Regions from separate parts of the Homo sapiens genome. Here regions 2, 3 and 4 are each linked to region 1. Evidence: fine-mapped expression QTL. A gene starts in region 1. Each other region holds a variant in brackets. All regions are shown on one strand. Distances are between the middles of the regions.

Region 1 (5,000 bases):
CCACAACAGCTGCAAATCCTTACAGCCATGTCTACCAGGTCAGCCTGCACTGGGACCTGCCTGAATCAAAAGTTTGCTGCCTGAATTTGTGCATTACAATTCAGCTGGAATTCACAGATATTAAATGTTCTTTGTTGGGATTAGGAAAGGGACAATGTGCTTGCCATGTGTTATGGAACAACTGAGGACACAAACATGACCATGGTTTCCCTTCCTGAAAGAAGTAAAACATTTATTATTTTTGGATTGGTCTACATTGTAATAAAAGTTGATATGTAACAAAACATATCTACATAGTGATTTTTTTTTATTGTCAATTGTCAAAGTTTACTACCACACTAACAGAACAATGACTTTTAACATACGGGTATATCCATAGATTAGGTCTCATTAAAGCTGTTACTAAATGGGGTCTAGGGATGGGGTCTAAGGAATACAGCTTTAGGAACAAATGTGGAAATGGGGATAGATTTATTTATTCCACTCATTAATTCATTCAATATAGTTTTTTGTTGGGAGCAGACAAGGTCTCTCGCTTTGTCACCTAGGATGTGGTGCAGTGGATTCGACATCTGGGCTTAACAGATTCTCCCATCTCAGCCTCCTGAGTAGCGGGGATTACAGGCATGCGCCACCACGCCCGGCTAATTTTTGTATTTTTTTGTACAGACAGGGTCTCCCAGGTTGCCCAGGCTAGTCTCGAACTCCTGGGCTCAATCAAGCGATCCGTCCACCTTGGCCTCCCAAAGTGCTGGGATTACAATCAATATACATTTAGTACCTATTATTTATGGGCTAATCATGTGCTAATGGACTGGTGGAATCACTCTATTCCCTTTGCTCTAGATTGAAGCTTCGAGACCACCTGGGAAAATAGACAACTAATGTAATGAATATCCATAACCAGTTTCAGAGACAACCAGTAGTTTGCAAGTTATTCCACCCATTAAACGATTCCAAATGTTGGAGAAAAGGCCCCCAACTTAAAATACTCCACGGAAACGTGCTCTATACATCTATGTGGTGCTTACAATAAAAGATGAATTCCTGCGACTGAGTTGCAACCCCGAAAGAAATGATTTAGAGAAAAAAAGAAAGAAAGAAAAAGGTAAGTATGTCACCGTGCTTTTGGAAAATGCTTTTGGGATTTGTCCAAGTTCTAGAGTGGAACCCAAGGCTCCTGGGCCAGGGGACAGAAGTGATAACTAAGTAGGATGCAATTTAGTTGGAATCTTCCCTGACCTTAATCCCATAAACAGTTGCCTAGGTAAAGGCAAAGTCTACAGGCCCTAAAACAGGGTACAAGCTTTCCCTAAAACATATTAGAGAGAGGCACTTTCAACAGGACCTTGTTGCAGGATCCCTAAAAAAAAAATTCAAAACAAGGAGATTTACATGTTATTCACCTTATCATAATTTCAGAAATATTTTACTAATAAAAAAGGAGTCGTGAAGTCTGGAACACCTTAAGACGTGACGTCTGCAACACCTTAAGAACAATGATTACAAATGTATTAATATTCTCTCTGATTTTAAGGGAAAAGTGATGAAGGAACAGGAAGATGGGTGGGCGTATGTTCCCAGAAATCCCCAGAACGTCAAAAAGGAAGCGGAGGCTTTGAGTGGAGGACTACGGAGAGCGTCTACGGTTGTGCCAAAGGAAAAAAAATGTTCCTAAGAAAAGAGTATACAAAGTTGTGTTCATCAAAGTCTGGAACCCAAAGGTGTCCCTCCAAAGCTGTACACGACAGAGAAAACGCGAACTGAAAGAAGAAGCAGGTCCCAAGGGGCCAGGCGCCTCCTCCACCTCCTCCTCCTCCTAGGTACGTAGGGCAGAACTAAGGCTGACCCAGACGTAACTCAGCCCTCTCCTCACGCCAGCCGCAGCCAAGCATCCCACGGAGCCTCCCCCCGCGCCCGTCGCCGTGGCGACCGCCGGGGCCACGCAGCACCGCCCCTTCCTCGCGACGTGGCCCCGCCCTCTGAGAACCCGGAAGCGGGAGTCTCGCGCCAGCTGAGCGGCGGTCGGGCGGGGGGAGCGCGGCGGCCCAAGCTCGCTCGGCCACGCGCCCCGCCCCCTCAGAGGCCGGCCTCCCGCACGCACCGCGCAGCCTGCTGTGCCCGTGGGTCCCGAGTGCTCCGCCGCCCGCCCCGACCCGGGCCCAGCCGCCTCCACGGCCCGCGCTCGTACTGGAGCGAAGAGCGGCCTCCTGAAGGAGGGGAAGGGACGTGGGGGCGGCCACGGCAGGTGAGGGTGGGCGAAGCCCTGGGAAGCGGCTGGGTGTGCGGTATGCGGGGTTGTAGGTGTGTGTGTGTGGCGCGTGGCTGCCTTGGTTGGTGTGACTTTGTGAGTGTGTTCTGAGTGGGCCGGTCCATGTGACCACGCACGTGATCACGTGCCCTTGTGAGTGTGTGTCTGGGGCCGAATCTGGGCTGTGGGGTGGTCGGTGTGCTTGTGACCCTGCCTTTGTGTGGCTGTCACCGGTGGGACTGGCGGGGAGCTGTGTGTGAGTCTCCAGCGGGAGGTGGGGGCGGCACAGGGCTTAACCGGGGCATCCTCCTGTAAACCCATCCTGGGGCTACACGACTGCAGCCCAGGAACATTTCTTTCTTTCTTTCTTTCTTTTTTTTTTTCTCAGCAAACTTTTAAGAACTGTGAGCAGAGGCCAGTAATTTTGGAGACAGGACCTCGGCCTGAAAGTGATAGATGTCTTTGTTGTTACTGAGTGTGGGCCAGGTGTAAGGTTTGTAAACGGGGGATGAGGAACAGAGCGGGACCGGAGTGTCTCATTTTTCCTCTTCTCGTTTTCCTGGGGAGTTATAAGTTAGACATTTATGCTGCTTCCTTTGTCTCCACCTACACTGGTTCAGCTCCTTTTGGCACAAAGATTCAACAAATTAAGGAGTAACTTTTTTTTTTTTTTTTTTTTTGAGACGGAGTCTCGCTCCGTCGCCCAGGCTGGAGTGCAGTGGCGCCATCCCAGCTCACTGCAAGCTCTGTCTGCTGGGTTTACGCCATTCTCCTGCCTCAGCCTCCCGAGTAGCTGGCACTACAGGCTCCCGCCACCACGCCCGGCTAATTTTTTGTATTTTTAGTAGAGACGGGGTTTCACCGTGTTAGCCAGGATGGCCTCGATCTCCTGACCTCGTGATCCGCCCGCCTCGGCCTCCCAAAGGGCTGAGATTACAGGCGTGAGCCATCGCGGCTGGCCACTGAGGAGTAACTTAATAGCTGTGTCCAAATTCCAAAAGCTTTTTTCCCAAGAGCATGAGAAGAGATGTCACAGATGTCAGGTAGGCACCTTTTCCTCCTGTAAGGTTTAGAGATAATGCAATGAAGAAAAGAGGGATAGATCTCCCCTGAAGAGATCTAAGAAAAGGATAGCTGTGTACTTCTGTGGTGAGGGATGGAGACGTGCATTAAAAAGCCAGTTGCATCTCCCAGAGACTCTCAGCTTCTAATATTTTGTTATGGCTAGTATTTATAAGCACAGATTTTCCACAATGCACATCAACTATAGATTGAAATAAAGTAGCAGAAACCTCTGACTAATTATGCTGGTTATGTGACTTAAACATTGATAAAGGTGATTTTGTTGACTTTAAAGTGGCAGGTTCTGTTGAAGCCATGAGGGATAGGGGCATAGTCACAACTGGCAGGTTTTTTTGTTTGTTTGTTTGTTTGTTTTTTGAGACAGAGTCTCACTCTGTCGCCCAGGCTGGAGTGCAGTGGTGTGATCTCAGCTCACTGCAACCTCCGCCACCCAGGTTCAAGCAATTCTCCTGCCTCAGCCTCCTAAGTAGCTGGGATTACAGGAGCCCATCACCGCGCCCAGCTAATTTGTTTTTGTTGTTGTTGCTGTTTTGTTTGTTTTTTTGAGATGGAGTTTCGCTCTCGTTGCCCAGGCTGGAGTGCAATGGCGTGATCTCGGCTCACCGCAACCTCTGCCTCCCGGGTTCAAGTGATTCTTCTGCCTCAGCTTCCTGCGTAGCTGGGATTACAGGCATGTGCCACCACGCCTAGCTAATTTTGTATTTTTAGTAGAGACGGGGCTGCACCATGTTGGCCAGGCTGGTCTCGAACTCCTGACCTCAGGTGATCCACCTGCCTCAGCCTCCCAAAGTGCTGGGATTATAGGCGTGAGCCACTGCACCCAGCCACAACTGGCAGTTTTTATTGTCCAGCAGCACAAGGGCCAGAGAAGACAGGGAGTCCACAGCACACCCTGAAGAGGGCTTTCCTTAGGCAAGATTAAGGCTAATATTGTGGCTCTTTTCCCACCAGCATGAACAGGTGCTTTTGTTTTTGTGAAGAACAAAATCATGAGAGATAAAATCAGTTTTGAGCTCATGGTCCACATTCTTTCTTATTCAGTACTGACCAGTTTGGTCACAATCTCAGTTAACCTTTGCCATATACAGAATATTCCTCTTATGATTTGGAAAAGTATACCCCTTTGGTGGATGAAAGAGAGCTAGGAGAACAAACTTTCCTATTCATACCACTCACAGCTGTTTTCCCTTTGCAGCAGTGATCTTTTTTTCACTTAGACGTCAGTTGGTCAGATGCAACATTTGGTATCCATTTTACCTTTCATGTACTGCCAAACTAGCACAAGTGTTAAAATTACTTGTCTCTACAAAAATTTAGTCACAGCGGAGTGGAATCTCTCCATCTTGTAAGATTACTTTTAACACGTTGGCATCCTGAGGTGGTTGTGAATTATTCTGAAGACTGTTGGTAAGGAACATCTTTCTATTTACTGCTATGGGAAAGAAGAGGATGACCGCGTGAATATGTGTGCCTGTGTATGTGTGTATTTGTATGGTGGTTTGGTTTGTGCATTGCAACTGATTTCAAAGCTATGAATGATTTATCCCATTTGGTGACTCTAGAAGCACACTTTCTGGCTTTAGTTAGCTAAGGTGTTTTATAAATCTATTGAGTAGATGTTATTTGCTAAACATGTTTTTATTTTCCCTCCTTTAGAATAGATTGT
Region 2 (8,373 bases), 20 kb after region 1:
GTCTACTAAAAATACAAAATTAGCTGGGCAAGGTGGCACATGCCTATAATCCCAGCTACTCAGGAGGCTGAGGCAGGAGAATCACTTGAACCCAGGATGCGGAGGTTGTGGTGAGCCGAGATCACGCCATTGCACTCCAGCCTAGGCAACAGGAGCGAAACTCCATCTCAAAAAAAAAACAAACCAAAAACAAAATGGTGGAAATGCTTTGGGTGCAGCCAGTGGGGTACTTGTTTCCTAGGAGCCATCCTTTCATTGATTTTATCATTTTAAGTAATTGGTAGGTATCTATGATGCCATACAGCTGGCTTACTGTGCACTTCTTTCATTGCTGGCAAGGCGAGGCTCTAGCCTTAAAATAAAGCCCAGTGGCCAGGTGTGATGGCTCATGCCGTACTCCCAACACTTTGGGAGGCCAAGACAGGAGGATCACTTCAGGCCAAGAGTTTGAAACCAGCCTGAGCAACATAGTGAGACCCCATCTCTACAAATAACAATAATAATAAATTAGCCAGGTATCATGGTATGCACCTGCAGTCCTAGCTACTCAGGAGGCTGAGGCAGGAGGATCGCTTGAGCCCAAGAGTTCAAGGCTGCAGTGAGCCACAACTGTGCCTCTGTACTCCAGGCTGGGTGACAGAGCAAGACCCTACTTCAAAAAAAAAGCCCAGTGAGTAAACACATCTGTATGATCAGTGTTTTCAAATAATGTATAGGGAAATATCGTTTTCACATCTACTTAAAATTGCACTCTGATATTTTTTAGTTTTTTTTGTTGTTGTTTGTTTTTTTGTTTGTTTGTTTTTGAGATGGAGTCTCGCTCTGTCGCCCAGGCTGGAGTGCAGTGGCACGATCTCAGCTCACTGCAAGCTCTGCCTCCCAGGTTCACGCCATTCTCCTGCCTCAGCCTCCCGAATAGCTGGGACTACAGGCGCCCGCCACCATGCCTGGCTAATTTTTTATGTTTTTAGTAGAGACGGGGTTTCACCGTGTTCACCAGTATGGTCTCGATCTCCTGACCTCGTGATCCGCCCGCCTCAGCCTCCCAAAGTGCTGGGATTACAGGCATGAGCCACTGTGCCCAGCTATTTTTTAGTTTTTCTGATGTTATCTTAGTAATTACTCAGCATTCATGCAACAATTTCTTGTATACATTAGCTACTTTACAAATCCTTCCCGTCCAGATAATGCACTAAATAATGCTCATTATTTTTGGTGATTTTTATTGCTGTTCTAATTGTTAGAATGCCAAGACAGCCCCCATTCAGTTTGTGCTCTGGCACATCAGCTGCTTATTGTCAAATATCTGAGTGCTTACTGTGTGCCACACACTGAGGATCCAGGAGTGAGCAAAGTCAACAGGGTCCACCCCTTACAGAGCGTACTTAGACCTCATCACCTTCAAAAGATAAGAAAGTGATGGGGCTGGGAGAGAACTTAGAAAGTTAACTGGAAGGTGACCTAGTGGTCCTTTTGAGGGAAGCTCAACTTCCAGCAAGGCTGTCCCAGTGGTAATAAGCATCAGAAGGTAGTTTGCACCTCATCTAAGTAATTTTCGTCATAGGTTTACAGAAATTAGTGTTTGCCCTCCATGATGGCTCTTAACAGTTGAAATTAATGGAATAAATATAAACTAAAGATCATATATAGAAATCCGTAAAGATCTGACCAGTCACAGTGGCTCACACCTGTAATCCCAGCACTTTGGGAGGCAGAGGTAAGAGCATTGCTTGAGTCCAGGAGTTCTAGACCAGCCTGGGCAACAGAGCAAGATCCTGTCTCTACAGAAAAAAAATTTTCTTTTTTGAGATGGGAGTCTCGCTCTGTTGCCCAGGCTGGAGTGCAGTGGCACGTTCTCACTGCAGCCTCTGCCCCCCAGGTTCAAGTGATTCTCCTGCCTCAGCCTCCCAAGTAGCTGGGATTACAGGCGCTGGCCACCGCCCCTGGCTAATTTTTGTATTTTTAGTAGAGACGGGGTTTCACCATCTTGGCCAGGCTGGTCTTGAACTCCTGACCTTGTGATCACCCACCTTGGCCTCCCAAAGTTCTGGATTACAGGCATGAGCCATTGCGCCTGGCTCAGTAAATTTTTTTTTTTGGAGACGGAGTCTGGCTCTGTCGCCCAGGCTGGAGTGCCATGGCACGATCTTGGCTCACTGCAAGCTCCATCTCCTGGGTTCACGCCATTCTCCTGCCTCAGCCTCCCGAGTAGCTGGGACTACAGGCGCCCGCCACCAAGCCCGGCTAATTTTTAGTATTTTTAGTGGAGACGGGGTTTCACCGTGTTAGCCAGGATGGTCTCAATCTCCTGACCTCGTGATCTGCCCACCTTGGCCTCCCAAAGTGCTGGGATTACAGGCATGAGCCACCGTGCCTGGCCCCGGCTCCCCCAGCTCAGTAAATTTTTAAAAAATTAGTCAGGCCTGGTGGTACGAGCCCGTAGTCCCAGCTACTCGGGAGGCCAAGGTAGAAGGATCACTTGATAGGAGTTTGAGGCTACAGTGAGCTATGATCACAATACTGCACTTCAGCCTGGGCAACAGAGTGAGACCCTGTCTCTAAAAGTTTTTTTTTAAATTTTTTAATTAAAAAATAAAAAGAGGCCAGGAGTGGCTCACGCCTGTGATCCCAGCACTGTGGGAGGCTGAGGTGGGTGGATCACTTGAGGCCAGGAGTTCACCACCAGTCTGGCCAACATTGCAAAAGCTCATCTTTACTAAAAATACAGAAGTTAGCCGGGCGTGGTGGCATGTGCCTGTAGTCGCAGCTACTCGAAAGGCTGAGGCATGAGAATTGCTTGAGCCCGGGAGGCAGAGGTTGCACCCAGCCGAGATCATGCCACTGTACTTCCAGCATGGGTAACTGACTGAGACTCTGTCTCAAAAAATAATAACAATAATAAATTTAAAAAATAAATCTATAAATATCAATTTGCCTTGAATTAGCCAAGTTGAATCTAATAGTAGCAAATTTGGGGAGGTGCAATAGCTTTCATATTGGTATTTTGAAATCTGTTTTGAAATATCAATCGATAAAAACATAATATCAACCAGAAGGAAAGAATACTTCTCTTAATATTCAGTTTTCCAAAAGAAATAGTTTAATCCTTGGAAATAGGGCCAATTAGAGAAAAAAAACAATCTTGGACTCATCAGAATGTCTATCTCAGTAAAGGTATTTTGAAATATCTCTTATAATTATCCTAAATCCTCAAATAAAAGTTTAATTATATGAAGCCATAACTCTTTGGAAGCTTGGGAAAGTGTGTGTAAAAACTAGATGCTGAGCTCTTTGGAGGAGGGGATTAGGACTTTTTATTTCTAGATCCCAAGCTAATACAAAGCTTTAATGTTGAATGAATATTTGCCATGTGTAGTCTTGGAAGTTTAAATTATAAGGTCTTTGTGTTTTACAGCTTTTGGCTGATGCCTGCATTTATGCTCAAAAAAATAGTTCTTGGAAATTTTTCATCTGGCCCGGTGGACCCTATGATGGCTGATGCCATTGATTTCATGGTAGACAGGGTAAGGATCATGACATTGGGTTGGGGACACATTGTATTGGGAATTTTCACATCTACTTGGTTCCAGAAGATAGATCTGTCTCACAAGTATGTGTAAGAGGTATTTGCTAAGCAGAGTAATACATCTGAGCAGATATTATTGCTGGTAAGGGCTTGCCTACATCAGTGCTTCCCACCAGCTATTCATCAAAATCACTTAGGGGAGCTTTCAAAAATACAGATTGTAAGGCCTCACAGCAGATCATCCATCTGGAATCCCTGGGCATGGGATCTGGGAATCTATTTTTACTTCACACTTTTCCTCTACCCACCAGGTAAATCTGATGAACCAGGTCTGTTGGCTTGCATTTAGGAACTGCTGGGCTAGATGATTTCTCAAATCTCTTTTAAGATCCCTTAAAGGTTTATCTTAAAAAAAAAAAAAAAACAAAAACATATATCTGTCACCTTTGAGCAGTAGGAATTGGCTTGCTGCCCATGGGCACCTGGCTGGAGTAGGCAGTGTAGGCTGAGGGCTGTAGAAGGCCGGGTTTCATTGGTTTGTACCCAGGTTTCCAGAATAGAAAAATGCCACAACCTCCTGAGAAGCCCAGTTCATGGTCTCTCACCTAAGTTGTGGTTCCTCACTGATGACTTTTCTGGCCCCACCACAGATGATACCACCTTTATAAGCACAAATGTTGTCTGTGGATTTAATGTAAATGTGAAAAACAAAATTATTTCAAAAACTTTACCTGTGTTTCTTCCTGCAGCTAGAAAGTTTGGGTCAGAGTGAACTGGCTTCAAGACTTACCTTGAATTGTCAAAATTCTTATGTGGAACCTCATAAAATTCGGGACATACCTGTAACTATTATGGATGTAAGCTTCCTTTTAAGTAAAATAGCTGCTTTACTTTTTAAAATGTGTATGTCAAGATCTCCTATAAAACTATTTGATAACTTTCAATGT[A/G]CCTCTTCAAATGCTGCCTTGGCTTTTGTTTTTACCCTCCAGCTTTCTCAATTCCAAAATAATCTGTTTATTGCTTATCTTGGATTTCTTTCTGGCAGGAATAACACCATTGAAATCAAAATAGGCCGAGCACAGTGGCTTATGCCTGTAATCCCAGCGCTTTGGGAGGCTGAGGCAGGAGGATTGCTTGAGTCCAAGAGTTCAGGACCAGCCTGGGCAACATAGTGAGACCCTGTCTGTATTTATTAAAAAAAAATAAAAATAAAAATGAATCAAAATAAATTTAAACAAGGGAGTCTACCCATTTGATGTATTTTTGCTGTTCTCATCAATAGATATTGCACCATATATTGCACATATATGGGCAGCAAAGAGAAGGTGCTTCACAAGGGTAACAAGGGTAGAGAATCAAGAATTCCATAGTTTAATTACCACAAAAGCTTGCTTATTTTTTTATTGTGGTAAAATGTACATTTAAAATATGCCATTTTAACCATTTTTAAGTGCATAGTTCAGTGGCATTAAGTATATTCACAGTTCGGCAACCATCACCATTTTCACAACATTTTCATCATTCCAAGAAGAAATTGCATACCCATTAAACAATAACTCCTGTTCCCTTTCTTCCCCCGGCCTCTGATAATCAACGGTTTTATTTTCTGTCTATAAAAATTTACCTATTCTAGAACCTCATATAAGTAGAATCATACAACATTTATCCTTTTGTGTGGCCATTTCACTTAGCATAATGTTTCACAAGACTTATCTTGAAATGTTATACATGTGTCAGAATGTCATTTCTTTCTTTTTTTTTTTTTTTTTTTGGAAACAGGGTCTCACTCTGTTCCCCAGGCTGGAGTGCAGTGGTGCAATCTCAGCTCACTGCAACCTCTGCCTCCCGGGCCCAAACAATCCTCCCTCCTCAGCCTCCTTAGTAGCTTGGACCACAGGCTCACACCACTACGTTCGGCTAATTTTTTGTAGAGATGGGGTTTCACCATGTTGCCCATGCTGGACTCAAACTCTGGGACTCAAGCTGTCTGCCTGCCTGGGCCTCCCAAAGTGCTATGACAGGCATGAGCCACCACGCCCAGCCTATTTCTTTTTAAAGCTGAATAATATCTACCAATAAAACCAATGTTGGTTTATACCACATTTTGTTTATCCATTCATCCGTCAGTGGTCACTTGGGTTGTGTTCAGCTTTTGGCAATTGTGAATAGTGCTTCTATGAACATTGGTGTAAAAGTATATGTTTGGGCAGGGCACAGTGGCTCATTCCTGCAATCCCAGCACTTTGGGAGGCTGACTCAAGAGGATTGCTTGAGCCCAGGAATTCGAGACCAGTCTGGGCAATACAGGAGACCCTGTCTCTACTACTAATAAAGAAAATTAGGCCGGGCGCGGTGGCTCACCCCTGTAATCCCAGAACTTTGGGAGGCCAAGGCGGGTGGATCATGAGGTCAAGAGATCGAGACCATCCTGGCCAACGTGGTGAAACCCGTCTCTACTGAAAATACAAAAATTAGCCGGGCATGGTGGCACACACCTGTAGTCCCAGCTATTCGGGAGGCTGAGGCAGGAGAATTGCTTGAATCTGGGCGGTGGAGGTTGCAGTGAGCTGAGATCGCACCACTGCATTCCAGCCTGCCAATAGAGTGAGACTTCGTCTCAAAAAAAAGAAAAAAAAAAAAAGGAAAATTAGCTGGACATGGTGCCACATCCCTGTGATCCCAGCTACTTGGGAGGTTGAGGTGGGAGGATCACCTGAGCCTGGGGTGAGCCATGATCATGCCACTGCGTTCCAGCCTGGGCAACAGAGTGAGAACCTGTCAAAAAATATATGTATATTTGTTTGAGTTCCTGCTTTTAATTTTTTTTTATTTATTTTTAAATTATTTTTTAAAAATAATTTTTTGTTTTTTATTTTTATGGGTACATAGTAGATGTATCCTACTTTTAATTCTTTTGGACATATCGTTTGAAGTAGAATCACACTTTTTGAAGTACCACCATACTGTCTTCCACAGTGGCTATACCATTTCATGTTCCCACCAACAATGCACAAAGATTCCAGTTTCTCTATATCCTGGACCCTTATTTCTGGTTTTTTGGTTGATACTTATCCTAATGGATATGAATTGGTATCTCACTATGGTTTCAATTTACTTAAAAAAAAATCATATGATTATTTTGCCTTATAAATGGATTTGTTCCTAAATTCAAATAATATGGTTTTTTGTTTTTGTTTTTGTTTTTGTTTTTTTGAGACAAAGTCTCACTCAGTTGCCTAGGCTGGAGTGCAGTGGCGCGATCTTGGCTCACTGCAAGCTCCGCCTCCTGGGTTGACGCCATTCTCCTGCCTCAGCCTCCCAAGTAGCTGGGACTACAGGCACCCACCACCACGCCCAGCTAATTTTTTGTATTTTTAGTAGAGGCAGGGTTTCACCATGTTAGCCAGGATGGTCTCGATCTCCTGACCTCATGATCTGCCCGCCTCAGCCTCCCAAAGTGCTGGGATTACAGGTGTGAGCCACCGCACCTGGCCATAATATGGTATTTTTAATAATTGGTTTTTGTTGGGAAATTATTCATTATAAGCGTGTAAACAACTTCTTATCATCCTCTGCCATAATCGCTGCATTCTGACATTTGCCATAACATAGAACAAGCTTTTCAATGGTCCTCACAGGACATTTGCTCTGCCTGCCCTTCTTTCAAAGCTGTGCTCACTGCCTGGGTTCATGGTCACTGAAAACAGCCTGTAAGTTTTAGTTGGAGATGCACTTAAACATACAGATTTGGTATGGTATATTTAGTATACAATTTTTTTTGCTTATTTTACTTTTTGAAAAATTTTGTTGCATGTAAAAACGTAAATGTGTATGGGTATTGAAGGATGTCTAGAATCATATGCTGCAAACTGGTTTCCCCAAGAAAGAATAGCTTGTACTCTACATTTTTTTGGAATTTTTTTCACTGAGCCTAAATGACTTAGTTTATTGCTTTAAATTAATGATAAAAGTAAAAAGTTCTTTTGGGGCTTCGTGATCTTTTTGAAACTTATTGACATTTGCAATGATTGTTCTCTATTAATATTCTGTTAATCTACTTAGCTATATTTGAGGAAAAAGGAAATTCATGGTAGAATTTCCCCCGACCCCAGCCGGGCTTGGTGGCTCACGCCTGTAATCCCAGCACTTTGGGAGGCCGAGGTGGGCAGATCACCTGAGGTCAGGAGTTTGAGACCAGCCTGGCCAACATGGTGAAACCCCATCTCTACTAAAAATGCAAAAATTAGCCAGGCGTGATGGCGCATGCCTGTAGTCCCAGGTACTTAGGAGGCTGAGGCAGGAGAATCACTTGAGCCCAGGAGGTGGAGATTGCAGTGAGCCGAGATCACACCACTGCACTCTACCTCAAAAAAAAAAAAAGAATTTCCCCCCACCAAAAGAATGCAGGAGATGCTGTGCAGCAAAATCTGTAGCTAATGTCTTCGGTTGGAGTTATAAGTCACCAGGGATCAGCAGTGGAGGTAGTTCAGGCTGCTGGGGGTTCAGGATTGTCTTCATATGAAAGGAATACTTAGGGTAACATTTCCATAATGTGAAAAGAACATATTAAAACACTAGTTGATTACAGCTTTCTGTATGTGTGTGTGTGTTTTACCTTTCCTATGGTGCTGAAGCTTTGTGTTTTTTAAAGGTGTTTGATCAGAGTGCGCTTTCAACTGAAGCTAAAGAAGAAATGTACAAGCTGTATCCTAATGCCCGAAGAGCTCATCTGAAAACAGGAGGCAATTTCCCATACCTGTGCAGAAGTGCAGAGGTCAATCTTTATGTACAGGTAAGGCCTAGCTTGAAACCCAGAGCACTCTGAGCCCAACATATGTTTGCAACAT
Region 3 (7,892 bases), 32 kb after region 1:
CTCTCGCGTCATCTCAGGAGGCATCTGTCTGGTTGTGTCTAAGTTATTATGATTGCTGGGTGTGTTCAGGCATCACCAGCCTGATCCAGTCCTGAGAAAGTCCCCTGCTGGCTTAGCTGCCACTGCTGACCATTGCACAGGTGCATCATTCCATGAGGGGTTGCAGGTCAGTGATAATATTAATTTTTATCATTCCTTCTGCATTTATTAACTGGAAATTACCGATTTAAAAAAACAAAAACTTGCCCTCATCGACTGCTTGGTTTCGCTGAGATACAATTTAGACAGAAAAATAAGCATCAGTGCTTCTTTCCCTTTATGTGCCAGGTTTCAGAATATTGGGTTGGCCATACCTTCTTAGACTTCATCCCCAATACAGCCCTGATTATCCTGACTTTACAGGTGAGGACCTGGAGACTGGGTCAGGCAGTAAGGGGTGGAGCTGGGATGCCACCTTGAATCTGACCATCCCTAAAGCCAGTGATCTTTCCACAAAGGGGCCACATTGTCTTCTCTATCTGTGGCTTGACAACAGTCATGAGTTATGGAAACACTTGGTAAACCATAAGGGCGAAGCTTGACATTTTAACTAGTAGCGTCTGAGGCTACTAGAGCCGTCTAACAACTTTAACTACTCCCCAGCTCTGCCCCCTGATGACTGCAAGTTGTCATTGCCAGCCCTGATCAATTTTGAGTACTGGCCTTGAATGCGTACTCAGGCCTATTAGGCCAGCCTTCAACAGGCATCTCAGCCTTCGACAGGCAACCAGTCAAAAGCTATGCCCATGGCCCCACTGCCCAAACCTGCCCTTCCTCTTCTAGCCCCATTTTCTTAGGTCCTGGCATCACTATTTCTTGGAATCCCCAGTTAGAAACTCAGCCATCTTGGACCCTCCACCCCCACTCACTCCTCCACCCCCATGTCTCAGGCTGAAGCGGATGCAGAGATGAAAATTTGGGTGCAAGATGTTTATTAAGGATCAACATCTGTGGCCTGGTGTGGTGGCTCACACCTGTAATCCCAGTACTTTGGGAGGCCAAGGGGAGTGGATCACCTGAGGTCAGGAGTTCAAGACCAGCCAGGCCAACATGGAGAAACCCAGTCTCTACTAAAAATACAAAAAAATTAGCCAGACCTGGCGGCACGTGCCTGTAATCCCAGCTACTCAGGAGGCTGAAGCAGGACAATCACTTGAACCAGAGTGGCAGAGGTTACGGTGAGCTGAGATGGTGTCACTGCACTCCAGCCTGAGCAACAGAGTGAGACTCAATCTCCAAAACAAAACAAAAAAACAACATCTGTGAAGGGAAGATGGATTGGGCAGAGAGCGAAATTGAACTGTGATGCAGGCCCGATCAAGTACCCACCAACTCAGTAGGGCACGCAGGAGCTTGAAGCACCCACTGGAATATTTTCATGGAGGACTAAAATGGCTGGGTCTCTATGCTCCCGCGTAGCTCAGTTCCCAGAGGCAGCTGCCCTGGGGAGGGCAGGGTGTTGGGTGGGGCAACTCTCTGCAGCTGAGGCAGACCCTGAAGGGCTGACAGCTGGAGGCCATCTGCCCAGCTCACTCCTGCAGCTGGATGGAAAGGCCTTCCTGGAAGAAGGGGGTCCGGGCAATGCATTTCCACATCTACTACACCTATATCCCCTGACTCTCAGAGATCTAGCAACTTGCCTGCAAACTTGAGCCTTCCTCACTACAAGTTAGGCCTTGGCATCTTTTGCCCAGACTACTACAGTCCTCACTGGCTCCACCAGCCATCTCCTCCCACCCCCACCCATCCTCTGTGTGGTCCACACACAGGTCTGATCTTGTCACTTGCCAGTGCATGAACACTAAGGGACCTCTGTTGTGGAAATCAGACTAGTTTCAGAAACTCTGAAGTGGGGCTGTAACCATTTAGTGAAGCTCTGCACACAGGAAGAGATGCGGGGAGCAACCTCCACTAAGAGCCAGGGACTCCTTCACCTCAGTTCTTAACCTGGGAGTTTTATGGGTTCATTTTGATACATGATGTGATCCAGGGCCTGTACCCGCTTCTAGAAGTTATCTTGGGATCCACAGGAGAAAGACTTCGCACTTTTTAAGTATATAAACCTGCAGACTATATGTGAATAGTTTTAAGTACAGTATATATCTTAAAAAGGGGCCAGGCACAGTGGCTCACGCCTGCAATCCCAGCACTTTGGAAGGCCAACCCAGGCAGATCACGAGGTCAGGAGATCAAGACCATCCTGGCCAACATGTTGAAACCCCATCGCTACTAAAAATACAAAAAAAAATTAGCTGGGCGTGGTGGCATGTGCCTGTAATTCCATCTACTTGGGAGGCTGAAGAGGAGAATCGCTTGAACCAGGGAGTCGGAGGCTGCAGTAAGCCGAGATCGCACCACTGCACGCCAGCCTGGCAACAGAGGAAGACTCCGTCTCAAAGAAAAGGGAGGGAGTAACTGTAAGTAAATATCCATTGGAAAAGTGATTTAAATATACATTTTAGAAACAAGGAGAGTCACAATTAGCAAGGTAAAGTAGACTCTGAAAGGACAAGCAGATGTGCATTTCCAAAGGCGGAGTCTATTCTGTTCAGTTTCTACTTTATGAGACATCTAATTTTTGGTGATGGGGTGGGGAACAATTTCCAATGCATCTGCACCCCTCCCCCTCCTGCCCCTCAGGTCACAGCTCCCCCTCCTTCCACGCATCCTGTGCTCCAGCCACGCTACTCCCCAAGGTGGGGGGTCCCTCTCCACACCTCTGGGCTATTGCTTAGGCTGTGCTGTTGGCTTGGACTGCCCTTTTCCCCACTTCTGTCTCCTCTGTGAGCTGCTTCCTCCCCTTCCTTTCTTCCTTCCCCCAGGAAGGAGTCCCATAGTTGTTTGCACCCATCCATTACAGCGTGGACTGCACCTTATTACAGTTATTGGTGTGCAAGCCTTTCTCCCCTACTAGACCCTAAGCTTGGGGAAGGGGAGGGAACTGTGGGCTCTCATCTCTGTACCCACTCCTGGCAGGCCACCTGGCACAAAATCCACTCAGGAAGTATTCACTGTCCGTGAGTTGAGCCATTGTGCTTACATAGCACCAATCTGTGACAGCTTGTCTGACCTGGAATTTCACCCTGTATTTCCCAAAGAAAAGATATGAGTACTGGATTTGAGAGATATATTTCAACATTTCAATTTTATTGTATTTAAGAACTTTTTTTTCTCAGAAAAAAATTACAAAATTCATTTTATAAAATTCATCCAGATAAATGATTTCAGTCCCATATGGTACAAAATACCTTTCCCAAGGAATAGATGATTTAATTTAAAGCCTCTGTTTTCTTTTCCTTTTATAACTTTACTTTTGTTTTTTTTCACAGACTTTCTATTTTAGAACAGTTTTAGGTTTAGAGAAAAATTGAGCAGATAGCACAGAGAGCTCCCACGTACTCTTCAGCACACACAGTTTCCCCGATTATTAACATCTGGCATCAGTGTGGTACATTTGATACAACTGATGAACCAATATTGACACGTTACTATTAACTAAAGTCCATAGCTCACATTAGAGCAAACGCTTTGTGCTGTACATGCTATGGGTTTTGACCAATGCCCAATGTCATGTACCCACCATCACAGTGTCATACAGAACCTTTCACTGCCCTAACATCCCCTGCGCTCCACCTCCTCATCCCTCCCTTCCTCTCACTGCCCTTGCAGCTCCTGGAAATCACTGATCTTTTTACTGTCTTTGTAGTTTTGCCTGTTCCAGCATGTCATATCCTTTCAGTTTTCAGTAAGTAACACTCTCACACATTTCAAAAGTTAAAACTGTATAGAAAGGAACCACTGAGAACTCTTTCTCCCACCCGGTCCCAGCCCCACTGTTCCCCATTATCCTACTACCCCAGGGAAACCACCTGATTAGTTTCTTAGCCTTTGTCTAGCTTTTATTTATGCAAATATGTTTTCTAATTTCCTTTCTTTCTTACACAATTAACAGCATACTATTAGTAATATACTATATGCACTGATCTGTATCGTGTTTTTTTAATTATAATTATTCTTTTAATAAAATGCTTCACTGAGAGCAGGGAAGCCACCTTACTTTCCCAAAAGTTACACAATACATGGTAGTACCAAAGAAATATCTGCTGAGAGAAATACTATTTTGGGAAGTAGTTAATAATTTTACAATATGCAATAGAAGCAGACACATGAACAGCTACAATGTGGATACAAGTTTTGTCAAATAATCAGGAGAAAAAAGAATAAAAATTACAATGGCAAATGGCTGTCCAAATTTTCCAAGTCCAACTTTATAGTGCTGTGAAGAAAAGCATGAATATGAGACTCTCAATAAACATTTGTGCATCCATGAAATTGAATTATTTAGGTTTAAAGATAGAATTTTGGAAAACTGAAAATAATTTTTGTAATTTCAAGGTAAAATAATCTTTACTTTCAGAAAACACATTGTAACTGTGATAAGCCATAGCATTTATTCATGTGTATAAGATAAAAACACAGAAAGTATTCTACTCTTATTATTTAAGGTGGAAAAAGGAATAATTGTGAAATTATGTTTCAATTTTCCAGCCTGGCCATCATGGCCAAACCCCATCTCTACTAAAAATACAAAAATTAGCCAGCTGTGATGGCATGCACCTGTAATCCCAGCTACTCGGGAGGCTGAGGCACAAGAATCATTTGAACCCGGGAGGCGGAGGTTGCCGTGAGCTGAGATCTCGCCATTGTACTCCAGCCTGGGTGAGAGAGCAAGACTGTCTCAAAAAACAAAACAAAACAATTATCACCCTTAAAGTGTAGCTCAGAAAGATTTAGAGTAAGAGCATACATTTAGCTCGCAACATATATGTTAGGAAACAAAAGAATGCTGATTAAATATAACTTAGTGGTAGGTAAAGTTGTCTATTTTTTCCCTATCATATATCATAACGTAATAGATCACAAATATGTTTTAGAATTTTTCTTAAGTTTTAAGAATCCAAAAATGGCTGGGCTCCGTGGCTCATGCCTGTAGTCCCAGCACTTTGGGAGGCTGAGGTGGATGGGTCACCTTAGGTCAGGAGTTCAAGACCAGCCTCACCAACATGGTGAAACCTGTCTACTAAAAATACAAAAATTAGCCGGGCATGATGGTGTGTGCTTGTAATCCCAGCTACTCCGGAGACTGAGGCAGGAGAATTGCTTGAACCCAAGAGACGGAGGTTGCAGTGAGCCAAGATCACACCACTGCATTCCAGACAGGGCAACAAGCGTGAAACTCTGTCTCTTTTTTTGTTTGTTT[GTTTT/T]GAGACAGAGTCTTGCTCTGTCGCCCAGGCTGGAGTGCAGTGGCACAGTCTCGGCTCACTGCAAGCTCTGTCTCCCGGGTTCATGCCATTCTCCTACCTCAGCCTCCCAGGTAGCTGCGACTGACTACAGGTGCCCGCCACCATGCCTGGCTAATTTTTTGTATTTTTAGTAGAGACAGGGTTTCACTGTGTTAGCCAGGATGGTCTCGATCTCCTGACCTCGTGATCTGCCCGCCTTGCCCTCCCAAAGTGCTGGGATTACAGGCATGAGCCACTGCGCCCGGCCAAGCTAAACTGTTTCAAAAAAAAAGAAAAAAAAAAGGAATCCAAAGAAAAAAATACATCACCTGCAAAAGGTGAAGAGAGAAAGGAAGCTTTTTCTCTAAAAATGGTGCAGCTATCCTCTGAACCAATTTCCTTCGGTTTAATGTACCTGTATCTTGGGGTTTTTTTCCACTTAATTTATCCTGGAGCTCTTTCCATAACAACACTTGGAAAGCACTCTCATCCTTTTTTCACTGCTGAACAGAATTCCACTGTGTGGATGGAACATACTCTATTTCACCAGTCCCCTGTAGCCAGTCACTTGGTTTGTTTCCAATCTTTTGCTTTTTCAGAGTAATAACCTTGTATGTCTATCATTTTGTATGCATACAGGTTTATATGTAGGAAAAATTCCTAGAGTAGGATTGCTGGACCAATGGATAAAAGTATATTGTGGACAGACAATGCCAAATTGCCTTTCAGAGACTGTGGCCCTGTGCACCCCATCAGGCATGTGTGACTACCAAAGCTCCTGTCAGCTGTTTTATTTTATCTCCTTTCCAGTCTCAGGCTCAATGCAGAACTTTGAGGTAAGCTTTTCTAAAATGTAGGCTCCTAAACGCCACAGCCAGCTCTGCCACATGAAGGAGAGCTCAAATGAGACAGAAACAGCCTCTGGGCAGGATTTCTATCCTGCACAGATATATTTTCCACATTCTGGGAAACCGTGAAGCTTCCAGAGCCACAATTCCCCAGAAACACATCCCCCTGCTGGTACAGCCAAGCCCCAGAACAAGCTGTGCTTGCCTGGCACCTCAAAGCCAAGCACCATGGATGCCACTTGCTATGGGTGCCTGCAATTTCAAATAATGAGAAATAAGAAATTTCAGCTTCTCAGTCCCTCTAGCCAACATTTCAGGTGCATGACAGCCTCAGGTGGCAAGCAGCTACTCTGCCGGACAGGGCAGAAGATGGAACACCCCATCCCTGGGGAAGATCACGAGGTCAGGAGATCAAGACCATCCTGGCTAACACAGTGAAACCCCGTCTCTACTGAAAATACAAAACATTAGCTGGGTGTGGTGGCAGGCACCTGTAGTCCCAGCTACTCAGGAGGCTGAGGCAGGAGAATGGCGTGAACCTGGGAGGTGGAGGTTGCAGTGAGCCAAGATTGCGCCACTGCACTCCAGCCTGGCAACAGAGTAAGACTCCATATCAAAAAAAAGAGAAAAGAAGAAGAAAGAAAGAAAGAAGAAGAAGAGGAAGAAGAAGAAGTGGAAGAAGAAGGAAAGAGGAAGAGGAGAAGCAGGAGAAGAACAAGGAGAAGAAGAAGGAGAGAGAAGAAGAGACAAGAAGAAGGAGAAGAAGGAGAGAGAAGAGACAAGAGAAGAAGGAAGAAGGAGGAGGAGAAGGAAGAAGAAAAGGAGAAGAAAGAAGAAGAAGGAAGAAGAAAGAACAACAAAAAGAAGGAGAAGAACAAGGAAGAAGAACAACTAAGGAGAAGGAAGAAGGAGAAGAAGAAAGAAGAACAAAAAGAAAGAAGAAGGAGAAGGAAGAAGAAGGAGGAGGAGAAGGAGAAGAAGAAGGAGAAGAACAAGGAGAAGGAGAGAAGAAGAAGAGACAAGAAGAAAGAAGGAGAAGAAGAAGGAAGAAGAAAAGGAAGAAGAAAAGAGGAAGGAGGAGGAAGAAGGAGAAGAAGGAAGAATAAGGAAGAAGGAGAACAAGGAGAAGGAAGAAGAAAAGAAGAAGGAGAAGGAGGAAGAAGGAGAAGAAAGAGGAGAAGAAGGAAGAAGAAGGAGAAGGAAGAAGAAAAAGAGGAAGAAGGAGAAGAGGGAAGAAGAAGAAGGAGAAGACGACGAACGAAGGAGGAGAGGAGGAAGAAGAGGAAGGAAGAAGAAAGAAGAAGAAAAGAAAAGGAAGAAGAAGGAGAAGAAGAGAAGAAGGAGAGGAGGAAGAAGAAGGAAGAACTAAGAAGGAAGAGAAGGAGAAGAAAAGGAGAACTAAGAAGGAAGAAGAAAGGAAAAGAAGGAGAAGAAGAAAGAACTAAGAAGACGAAGGAGAGGAAGAAGAAGAAGAAGAAAAGAATAAGGAACAAGAAAGAAGGAGAAGAAGAAGAAAAGAAAGAAGAAAGAATAATAAGGAACAAGAAGAAAGAGGAAGAAGAAAGGAGAAAAGAAAGGAAGAAGAAAAGAGGGAGGAGAAAGAAGAAGAAAAGAGGAAGAAGAAAGAAGAAGGAGAAAAGAAGAAGAGGAAGAAGAAAGAAAAGAAGAGGAAAGAAGGAAGAAGAAAGGAAAGAAAGGAAGAAGATAGAGGAAGAAAGAAGAA
Region 4 (8,373 bases), 90 kb before region 1:
GCTGGGACAAGACCTCCTCTAGGGGGGTCCTGTATCCCATGCCTATTACTGGCCTGCTGGGGCCAGCCTGTCTTCTGACAGCTGTGTCTCCCACCAGCACAGTTAATTTGCTGCCGTTCCTGGGATGTGACAGCAACTTGAAGCAAAGCAATTAGGATGAAAAAGAGGCCCCAGCTCCTTGAGGCCAAAGGAAAATAAACAGAGCAGCCCTGTGTGTATTCCGCCGCCAAGAGGAGCCATTCTTCAAGGGATGATTAGCATTTCTAATCCCAGCTTCCTCCCTTCCCTTGAAAGAAAAGTGACCGGTGAGCGGCTGCTCTTTTCAGATCCCACTCTTCCCAAGGTGGACTGCAAACTTGACAGCTCGTCACCTCCACAGAAAAGTCTTCCCTGGCCACCTGCCACAGCCCTGCCAGAAATGATACTCCTGTCCTCTGAAATCTGAGAGCCTTTCTCTGTACCTTTCCTATGGAGTTTCCTTGATTGACTGATCAATTCATTAATGCATTCTTTCAACAAACATCCGTTGAGTGCCATTCATTCATTCAACAAATATTTCTTAAGTCCCTACTAAATAAATCATCTCTTAAGCTGCCTACTACGTTCTAGTCATTTTTCTGGGTCCTGATGAGAGAGCAGTGAACAAAACAGAAAAAACCCTCTGCCTTCGTGGAGCTCAAATTTTAGTAGGAGAAAACCAACAGCAAACAAGTGAAAAGATAGCATGGAAGATGATGCTAAAAGCTATGCAGAAAAATAAAACAGGAAAAGGGAGGAGAACATGTAGAGAAGGGGGAGGTAGATTTTAAGTAGGGAGGTTAGGAGAGTCTGTAGGATCGAAGTGACATCTGAGCCAAGACCTGCAGGAAGTGGGGTGGGGCTGAGGCAGTGCGCAGGCAGAGGGACACCAGCCACACACCCTGAGCCCGGAGTGTGCCTGGTGCGTCTGAGGAGCAATGAGGCCAGAGAGGAGTGGGAGGAGATGAAGTCAGGGAGGAAACAGGGTGGGAGAGTCTGAAAGGACTTTGCCTTTCAGAGGGGGCGCACCAGGCTCTGACTGGCATTTTGTTGAACTAGGATGGCTCTGGCTGCCCTGTGAGCACACTGAAGGGAAGCCAGCAAGGAAGCAGGTCCTTGGTGGACAGGGGTGGGGCAGCTTCTCTGCCTCTGCCAGGCGGGCTATATAAACCACATAGGATGATTTCAGGGAGAGGAAGGCTTGGGGTGCAGGACATCTGGAGTCAGGGGCAAGGAGAACGTTTGTGGAAGACTGGAGAGAACTCCAGAGAGTTGGGCTGCAGGGCTGCCACCAGGTTCAGGAAAATGATCCCTGCAGCTTTAAGCTGTGTGAGTGTAGGCCTCTCAGAAAGGACGGACTTCTCAGAGTAAACCTCTGGGCTGGGACAGAGAGATTTCAAATCCAGCCCTCTGAGCTCAGTAACTCCTAAGTGTTTCTGTAATTTGCCCAGCTGCACCTGGTTTGTGCCCCCCACACCTTCATGCAATAGTCAAGCCGAGATGCCGGGGAATGAGAGGCTGAGAATCCCAAGTCCTGAGTTCAAGTCCCTGCTCTTCCACTTAACTGCCTGTGTGACTCTGGGTGAGCCAGCCATTCTGGCTTTCTGCTGGTTTCCTCACAGGCACCCCAGGCACAGTCACCATCCCTGCTGAGGGTGGTGGGCAGTGGTGACACATGCTGACTGTGGGTGGAACAAAGCCTTAACTGTGAGAACCCTTAGACAGAGAAGGTGGGCTGGGTTACAAAGCTTCCCCACACTTCCTGAGACGAGGGAAGTATCAGTGAACGTGCAAATATCCCCCAGGGCCTAAACCAGTCATTACCTGGGCTGAACGGGGCTACTGGTCTCCCAGGTCTATCCTAAGGGAAGAGAACTAGTTAACTTTCCTATGGAAGAGGGAAGAGAAAGGGCTGAGTCCAAGGGAACAAACGAACCCCCAAAAGAGGTGGGGATACATAGAGAAAGGCAAAACGGAGGGAGTGTTAAGGAGACCATTGGAAACACCCTGTCCATCTCAGGATGTCGGCCAAGCAGGCATGTAGCACAGAAGACAAGCCTGTGGCCCTGGGTTCACAGCCAGGTTCTGCCACTACCTAACGAGCCTCTTCTAATCACATGACCGTTGAGCTTTTTTCCCTCCATTAAGCTGCGGGAGTAGGGGTGTTGCCAAACTATCTGCCACTTAAAATTCTCAAAAGCTCAAGTAAGTCAACTGTGGGAAAGCTCTCTGTGAACACTGTGTTATTATTACGCACAAAAGGCATCTCAGAAAGGGCTGCCCTGGATGAAGGGAGGAACAACCAAATGCCAGGAGCCAGCAGGCTGGGGCTAAGCAGCCCCAAGTGCAGACAATGCTGTGGGATAAGAGAGACTAGGAGCTGATGGATTATCATGTGGCAAGTCTCAGGTGTTCAGCACTGGTCAGGAGGAAGGAGGAAAATGCTCTGTACTGTTATGAAAGTTATCTGTAACTTGGAAGTAAGGCAAAAGAAGGATTATTTCCTTTCAATGTCACTTTGGGACACTTTGAACAGAGAAGAGTTATTTAATTTTCAAGGGGAATGTACCTTTGCCTTACAATTTACTATAGATTAGAGCCCAGACTTTGTGAAGTTACATGCTAACTTGTAGGCATATGCACAAATATGTACATGCATGTATGTAAAGATGCAAAGGATTTTTGTTCAGTAGAGAACCAAAAAAATTATGCTTTTGTCCTGTAAGGCATATGCCAGTTTTGTCTCTAACTTAGCAAACTTATTTTAGTATGTCTCTTCCAACTAAATATACAAATCTGTCTCTCAAATGCTCTTTTCAATCAGCTTTGCCATTCTTTTTGGTTCTCTTACAGGTGAGTTAAATAAATCTTTGATGTGTGATATGAATTACACTTTGAGGCCAGGTACAGTGGCTCATGCCTGTAATCCCAGAACTTTCGGAAGCCAAGCAGGAGGATTGCTTGAGCCCAGGAGTTCAAGGCCAACCTGGGCAACACAGTGAGACTCCACCTCTACAAAAAAATTGTATAAAAATTGGCCGGGCGTGGTGGCTCACACCTGTAATCCCAGCACTTTGGGAGGCCGAGGTGGGCGGATCACCTGAGGTCAGGAGTTCAAGACCACCCTGACCCACATGGAGAAACCCCATCTCTACTAAAAATACAAAATTAGCCAGGCTTGGTGGCGCATGCCTATAATCCCAGCTACTTGGGAAGGCTGAGGCAGGAGAATCACTTGAACCTGGGAGGTGGAGGTTGGGGTGAGCTGAGATCACACCATTGCACCCCAGCCTGGGCAACTACAGCAAAACTCTGTCTCAAAAAAAAAATTATAAAAATTAGCTAGGTGTGGTGGTGTGCACCTGTAGTCCCAGCTACTGGGGAGGCTAAGGTAGGAGGATCACCTGAGCCCAGGAGGTTAAGGCTGCAGTAAGCCATGATTTTACCACTGTACTCCAGACTGACAAAGCAAGACCCTGTGTCAAAAAGAAAAAAAAAAAAGAATGAATGAATTACACTTTGATAGAACTACAAGTGAGGAACTCTTGTTGCTATGCTGTGTGGCTTTGGGCCAGTGGGTCAGTTTCTGCCACAAGAAGAGGGTACCCAACTCCCAGGCCCAAGGTAGGTCGGGAGGGGGAAGTCAGATGTGAAAGTACCTTGCACATAATTCACAAGATGCAAAAGTCAGGGTTTATTGTTGAGACTTATCAGACTAGGCTACTCCAGGGCTGGAAGGTCCCAGGCTTCTGAGGGCAGCATTCTCCAGGGTTGGGACATAGGCCAGGAGAAGAGGCAGCTAGGTGCAGCCCTGGCGCGAGCCTCCATGCCCCGGAGGTGTCATGCTGACACTGCATTCTCCACTTCTGACGAGGCCAAGATTCCCCATGGGCCTCAGGTCCTGGGGGATGGAGACCAATGAGAACCACCCAGAGAAGTCTTCCCAAGGCCATGGAGAGGCTGGAAAGGGCTGGGACAGGCATCTGCCCAGAAGCCAGAGCTGGGGATTTTGATGAAGGAACGAGAGTCCTCATCCAACAACAGAGGTCAGCACTAGGTTCCTAACTAGTGGCCTCTGTAGCCTGGGTTCTTTCAAGGCATCATCATTTTAATCTGGGACAGGGAAGTCCCCCAGCTCACTTAACAGGATCTCTGCCCTTACAATCCACACACGTGGTTGTGCACACACAATGATGTTACAGCCAGGGGTCCAATGAGCAATGCAGGCAGCCCAGGTCAGGAAAACGAAGAGCTGGGTGAGCCAATGCTGCACAGAGGATGGTAGAGCACTGACAGGGAGAGAGGAGGAGACTAGGCATTCCAGCCCAGGGAATTGCAAAGGGCAGAATAGGACAGGAAGAGAACAAACCTGTAGAATGTGGAGGAGGGGCTACAACTGAGGAAGATGAGGCAGGATTTGGCTCATACCTCAACTGACCTGAAGTCATGTGGGTTAACAGTCCACTGCCCCGTGGTGATGGCAAAAACAGGGTGGGCAAGGGCTTACACCTGGGTGCTCCCCTAAGGGTTCCAAAAAGGAACGTGAAGAATCCTCTCGCCCCCACAGGTCTCACTCCAGGCTCAGCTCAGTCATTATCTGCTGCAAGCTGGCCCAGTCTCATCCCCTCTCTAGATGCCCCAACTACTGCTGCTCTGCTGGTATGGCTGGACTTGCAGAGACCCTCCCCATCTGCTCCAGCCTTCCCCAACCCTGCTTCTCTTCTGAGCTCTCAGCCTCCATGGTCTAAGCCTCCCCTTTCAGCAGCTAATGGTATCCTGCTCATCTCCTCCATAGAGTTTGCACACTCTCTTCTTTTCTGGAGTTATATATTTTTTCTCTTCCTATTTTCCCTTTGCCCTGATTTCTTCAGCACTTTATT[TTATTA/A]TATTGTATGCGGTTTTAAATTTTTTTGCATGTTGCCTTCAACTCTGTGGATCAAGTTGTGTGTAAACCTTTTTGTTGTCCTGTAACTGTTAAGATTGTTTTCTGGGTTATCCTTTAAGCTTCCTGGATCCCTGTGTGGCAACTACGGCTCTCATTACGCATAACACTGTATTGGGCATACAGTAGGTGCCTAATTCTTGCCTACTACTTGCAGTTTGATTAACATCATTTAAGTCGCTCCCAGCGATGCTCAATCACTAGCCCATTACATATAAGCCCGGATTATTCAAATCCCAACTCCCCCTACCCTGTTCACTGACATTGTGACCCACCAGCTCTCAGCAGAGCCCAAGTAATTTGAGGGCATCATCACTGCTCCCTGAGCTTCTTGAACATGTCCACACCACCAGAAGGCACCAAACCTGGGTGTCTCAGTAGAAAGAGGGAAGTTGCCAGCTACTTCTAAGGCCGGCCTCACACACTCAGCCATAGCTCAGGGAGGAGTCGCGGCGTCTCCTCCCTCCTAAAGCCAGCCCAGAGGTCACAGTTCTGCCGTTGTCGAAGTCACAGGCCCAGGAGCGCCAGGAGGCAGCCTTAGGAGAAAGGTCTGCAAGGAGCCGGGCCGCGGGAAGCCGGCTTTCTCCCTGAGCAGCCGCCAGGTGCCGCCCTCGATGGCGTAGAGCAGCGTGAACATGCGGTTGACCGTATAGACGGTGTCACCGCGCACCACGGCCGTGAAGAGCGCTCCCTTGCTGTTGACGAACTGGCCGGGCAGCGCCGTCCACTGGCCCGTGGCCAGGTTGAGACAGTCGATGGCGCAGTGCAGGAAGTCGTCGGAAGGTCCGTTGCGCACCACATAGAGGCTGTCGCGGTGGGCCACCATGCAGTGGCCATAGCTCTGCGGACGCCGCAGCTCGGCCACTGGCAGCCACGCGTCGGTCCGCACTGCGTACTCCACCACGGCGGTGGTGTCGGCCGGCCGCCACAGGCACACGAAGAGACGGCCACAAGCCTGGGCGCAGGGCACGCCGGCGGCCGGCTGCGGCAGGTCGGCCACGAAACTCCAGCAGCCCGCGGCTGGGTCGTAGCGCTCCACGGAGCTGATGGGCGTCCTCTGGAATTCGCCGCCGATGGCGTAGAGGCGGCCGTCGAAGCCGGCCAGCGCTGTGTCATAGCGCGGCTGGTGCGGGCTGGGGAACTCGTGCCACGTGCCGCCGTCGGGGTCGTAGCAGAAGCCCAGCTCTACCACCTCCTTGCTGGCGCCGCGCACGCCCCCCACGATGTAAAGCTTGTTGCCCAGCGTGGCCACCCCGGCCAGCAACGTGCTGGCCTCCAGGGGCAGCGCAGCCAGCGTGCGCCACGCGTCCTCTTCCTCGTCCAGGTAACACAGCGTGCGCGAGGCGTCCTCCAGGAAGCCGGGCGCGGGCGTGTGCGTGCTCACGGCCGCGTAGCTGCTGGGCCGCAGGGCCGCCACGTAGGCGCGGGCCTCAGGCAGCGCCAGTTCGGCCGCCAGCTCGCGCTCGCCGTCGCAGATGAAGAGCGCGGCACTGTGGAACACGTCGCGCAGGCCGAAGGCGGCGGCCGCGTCGCACAGCAATGCGCAGTTGTCCGACGTGAGGTTGTGCTCCAGAAAGCGAGCCAGCGCCGGCGCCTGGAGGAAGGCGGCGCACTCCACGGCCTGCAGCAGCTCGTCCTCCGCCGCCAGCGCCGGCCGGTCGCCGCGCAGCACCTGCAGCGTGGCGCGGAAACCTCCCGCGCTCAGAACGCCCAGGCGCACCTCTGCTGCGCGGGTCTCCCGCATGCCGGAGCGGAAGAGGCCTCGGAAGAAGCCACAGTGCTCCACCAGCAGGGCGCGGTCGGCTTGGAAGAGCTGGCCGCCCACCCACACCTGCACCAGGGTCTGTGGACCCCGTGCCATGGCGAGCTGGCCGGGCGGAGGCTGCCGCTGGGGCCTTGGGTTAGCCAGCCACCAACTCTGGGGCTCCCCTGGAGCAAAAAACTTCCCTGGGGGCTATAAATATCTCTCCCTGGCTAAAGATAGTATGGCTCATGTGATGTGGTGGCCCGCAGGCTGTATGGCTGCAGGCCCGGAGGGCATCTGGAGACCTGTGTGATCACTCATATCCTTAGAAGAAATGGTAATAATGGGTCCAGAATTGGTGGGTTCTTGGTCTGACTTCAAGAATGAAGCCGCGGACCCTCGAGGTGAGTGTTACAGCTCTTAAGGTAGCGTGTCTGGAGTCTGTCCTTTCTGATGTTCAGATGTGTTTGGAGTTTCTTCCTTCTGGTGGGTTCATGGTCTCGCTGGCTCAGGAGTGAAGCTGCAGACCTTCGCTGTGAGTGTTACAGCTCTTAAGGCAGCGTGTCTGGAGTTGTTCGTTCCTCCCAGTGGGCTTGTGGTCTCGCTGGCCTCAGGAGTGAAGCTGCAGACTTTCACGGTGAGTGTTACAGCTCATAAAAGCAGTGTGGACCCAAAAGAGTGAGCAGCAGCAAGATTTATTGCAAAGAGGAAAAGAATAAAGCGTCCACAGTGTGGAAGGGGATATGAGCGGGTTGCCACTGCTGGCTCGGGTAGCCTGCGTTTATTCTCTTATCTGGCCCCACTCACATCCTGCTGATTGGTAGAGCCAAGTGGCCTGTTTTGACAGGGCGCTGATTGGTGGGTTTACAATCCCTGAGCTAGATACAAAAGTTCTCCACGTCCCCATCAGATTAGTTAGATACAGAGTTTCCACATACAGGTTCTCCAAGGCCCCACCAGAGCAGCTAGATACAGAGTGTCGACTGGTGCACTCACAAACCTTGAACTAAACTCAGGGTGCTGATTGGTGTGTTTACAAACCTTGAGCTAGATACAGAGTGCCGATTGGTGTATTTACAATCCCTGAGCTAGACATAAAGGTTTTCCAAGGCCCCACCAGAGCAGCTAGATACAGAGTGTTGATTGGTGCACTCACAAACCCTGAGCTAGACACAGGGTGCTGATTGGTGTGTTTACAAACCTTGAGCTAGATACAGAGTGCCAATTGGTGTATTTACAATCCCTGAGCTAGACATAAAGGTTCTCCAGGGCCCCACCAGAGCAGCTAGATACAGAGTGTCAATTGGTGCACTCACAAACCCTGAGCTAGACACAGGGTGCTGATTAGTGTGTTTACAAACCTTGAGCTAGATACAGAGTGCCGATTGGTGTATTCACAATCCCTGAGCTAGACATAAAGACTCTCCACGTCCCCACCAGACTCAGGAGCCCAGCTGGCTTCACCTAGTGGATCCTGCACCAGGGCTGCAGGTGGAGTTGCCTGCCAGTCCTGCACCATGCGCTCGCATTCCTCAGCCCTTGGGTGGTTGATGGGACTGGGCACCGTGGAGCAGGGGGTAGTGCTCGTCGGGGAGGCTCGGGCCGCACAGGAGCCCATGGAGTGGATGGGAGGCTCAGGCATGGCGGGCTGCAGGTCCTGAGCCCTGCC

Direction of the effects. Alleles are on the strand shown, and positions count from the first base shown. SD is a standard deviation of normalised expression in the study named. Not every link is listed here.
In carriers of allele T in region 3, the expression in monocytes of the gene that starts at base 1,999 in region 1 tends to be higher than with GTTTT alone (large effect, 1.0 SD a copy in BLUEPRINT).

Evidence for each region. PIP is the estimated chance that this variant, and not a neighbour inherited with it, causes the effect. A credible set is the group of variants that fine-mapping cannot tell apart.
Region 2: its variant is the best candidate, but not a certain one, in a credible set for the expression of SPG21 in sun-exposed skin (GTEx, PIP 0.62).
Region 3: its variant is the best candidate, but not a certain one, in a credible set for the expression of SPG21 in monocytes (BLUEPRINT, PIP 0.85).
Region 4: its variant is the best candidate, but not a certain one, in a credible set for the expression of SPG21 in whole blood (INTERVAL, PIP 0.68).

What each region holds. Positions count from the first base shown.
Region 1 is chr15:64,986,913-64,991,912 of GRCh38, reverse strand. SPG21 (SPG21 abhydrolase domain containing, maspardin) reads left to right here and starts at 1,999. Exons shown (of 9, transcript NM_016630.7): 1 at 1,999-2,248. RefSeq lists enhancers at 1,566-1,625, 1,666-1,735, 1,791-2,290, 2,291-2,792 and silencers at 1,806-2,295, 2,416-2,465, 2,268-2,562.
Region 2 is chr15:64,965,265-64,973,637 of GRCh38, reverse strand. It overlaps SPG21 (SPG21 abhydrolase domain containing, maspardin), which reads left to right. Exons shown (of 9, transcript NM_016630.7): 6 at 3,416-3,524; 7 at 4,276-4,383; 8 at 8,178-8,318. Among named protein-coding and RNA genes, the nearest start is that of SPG21, 20 kb to the left of the region's middle. The variant A/G (reference allele first, on the strand shown) is at 4,474.
Region 3 is chr15:64,953,965-64,961,856 of GRCh38, reverse strand. ANKDD1A (ankyrin repeat and death domain containing 1A) reads right to left here. Exons shown (of 15, transcript NM_182703.6): 15 at 3,166-4,754. The coding sequence ends at 4,669. Among named protein-coding and RNA genes, the nearest start is that of SPG21, 32 kb to the left of the region's middle. The variant GTTTT/T (reference allele first, on the strand shown) is at 5,300.
Region 4 is chr15:65,075,264-65,083,636 of GRCh38, reverse strand. KBTBD13 (kelch repeat and BTB domain containing 13) reads right to left here and starts at 6,891. Exons shown (of 1, transcript NM_001101362.3): 1 at 3,689-6,891. The coding sequence starts at 6,821. The coding sequence ends at 5,445. It also overlaps a transcript of RASL12 not described here. The variant TTATTA/A (reference allele first, on the strand shown) is at 4,899.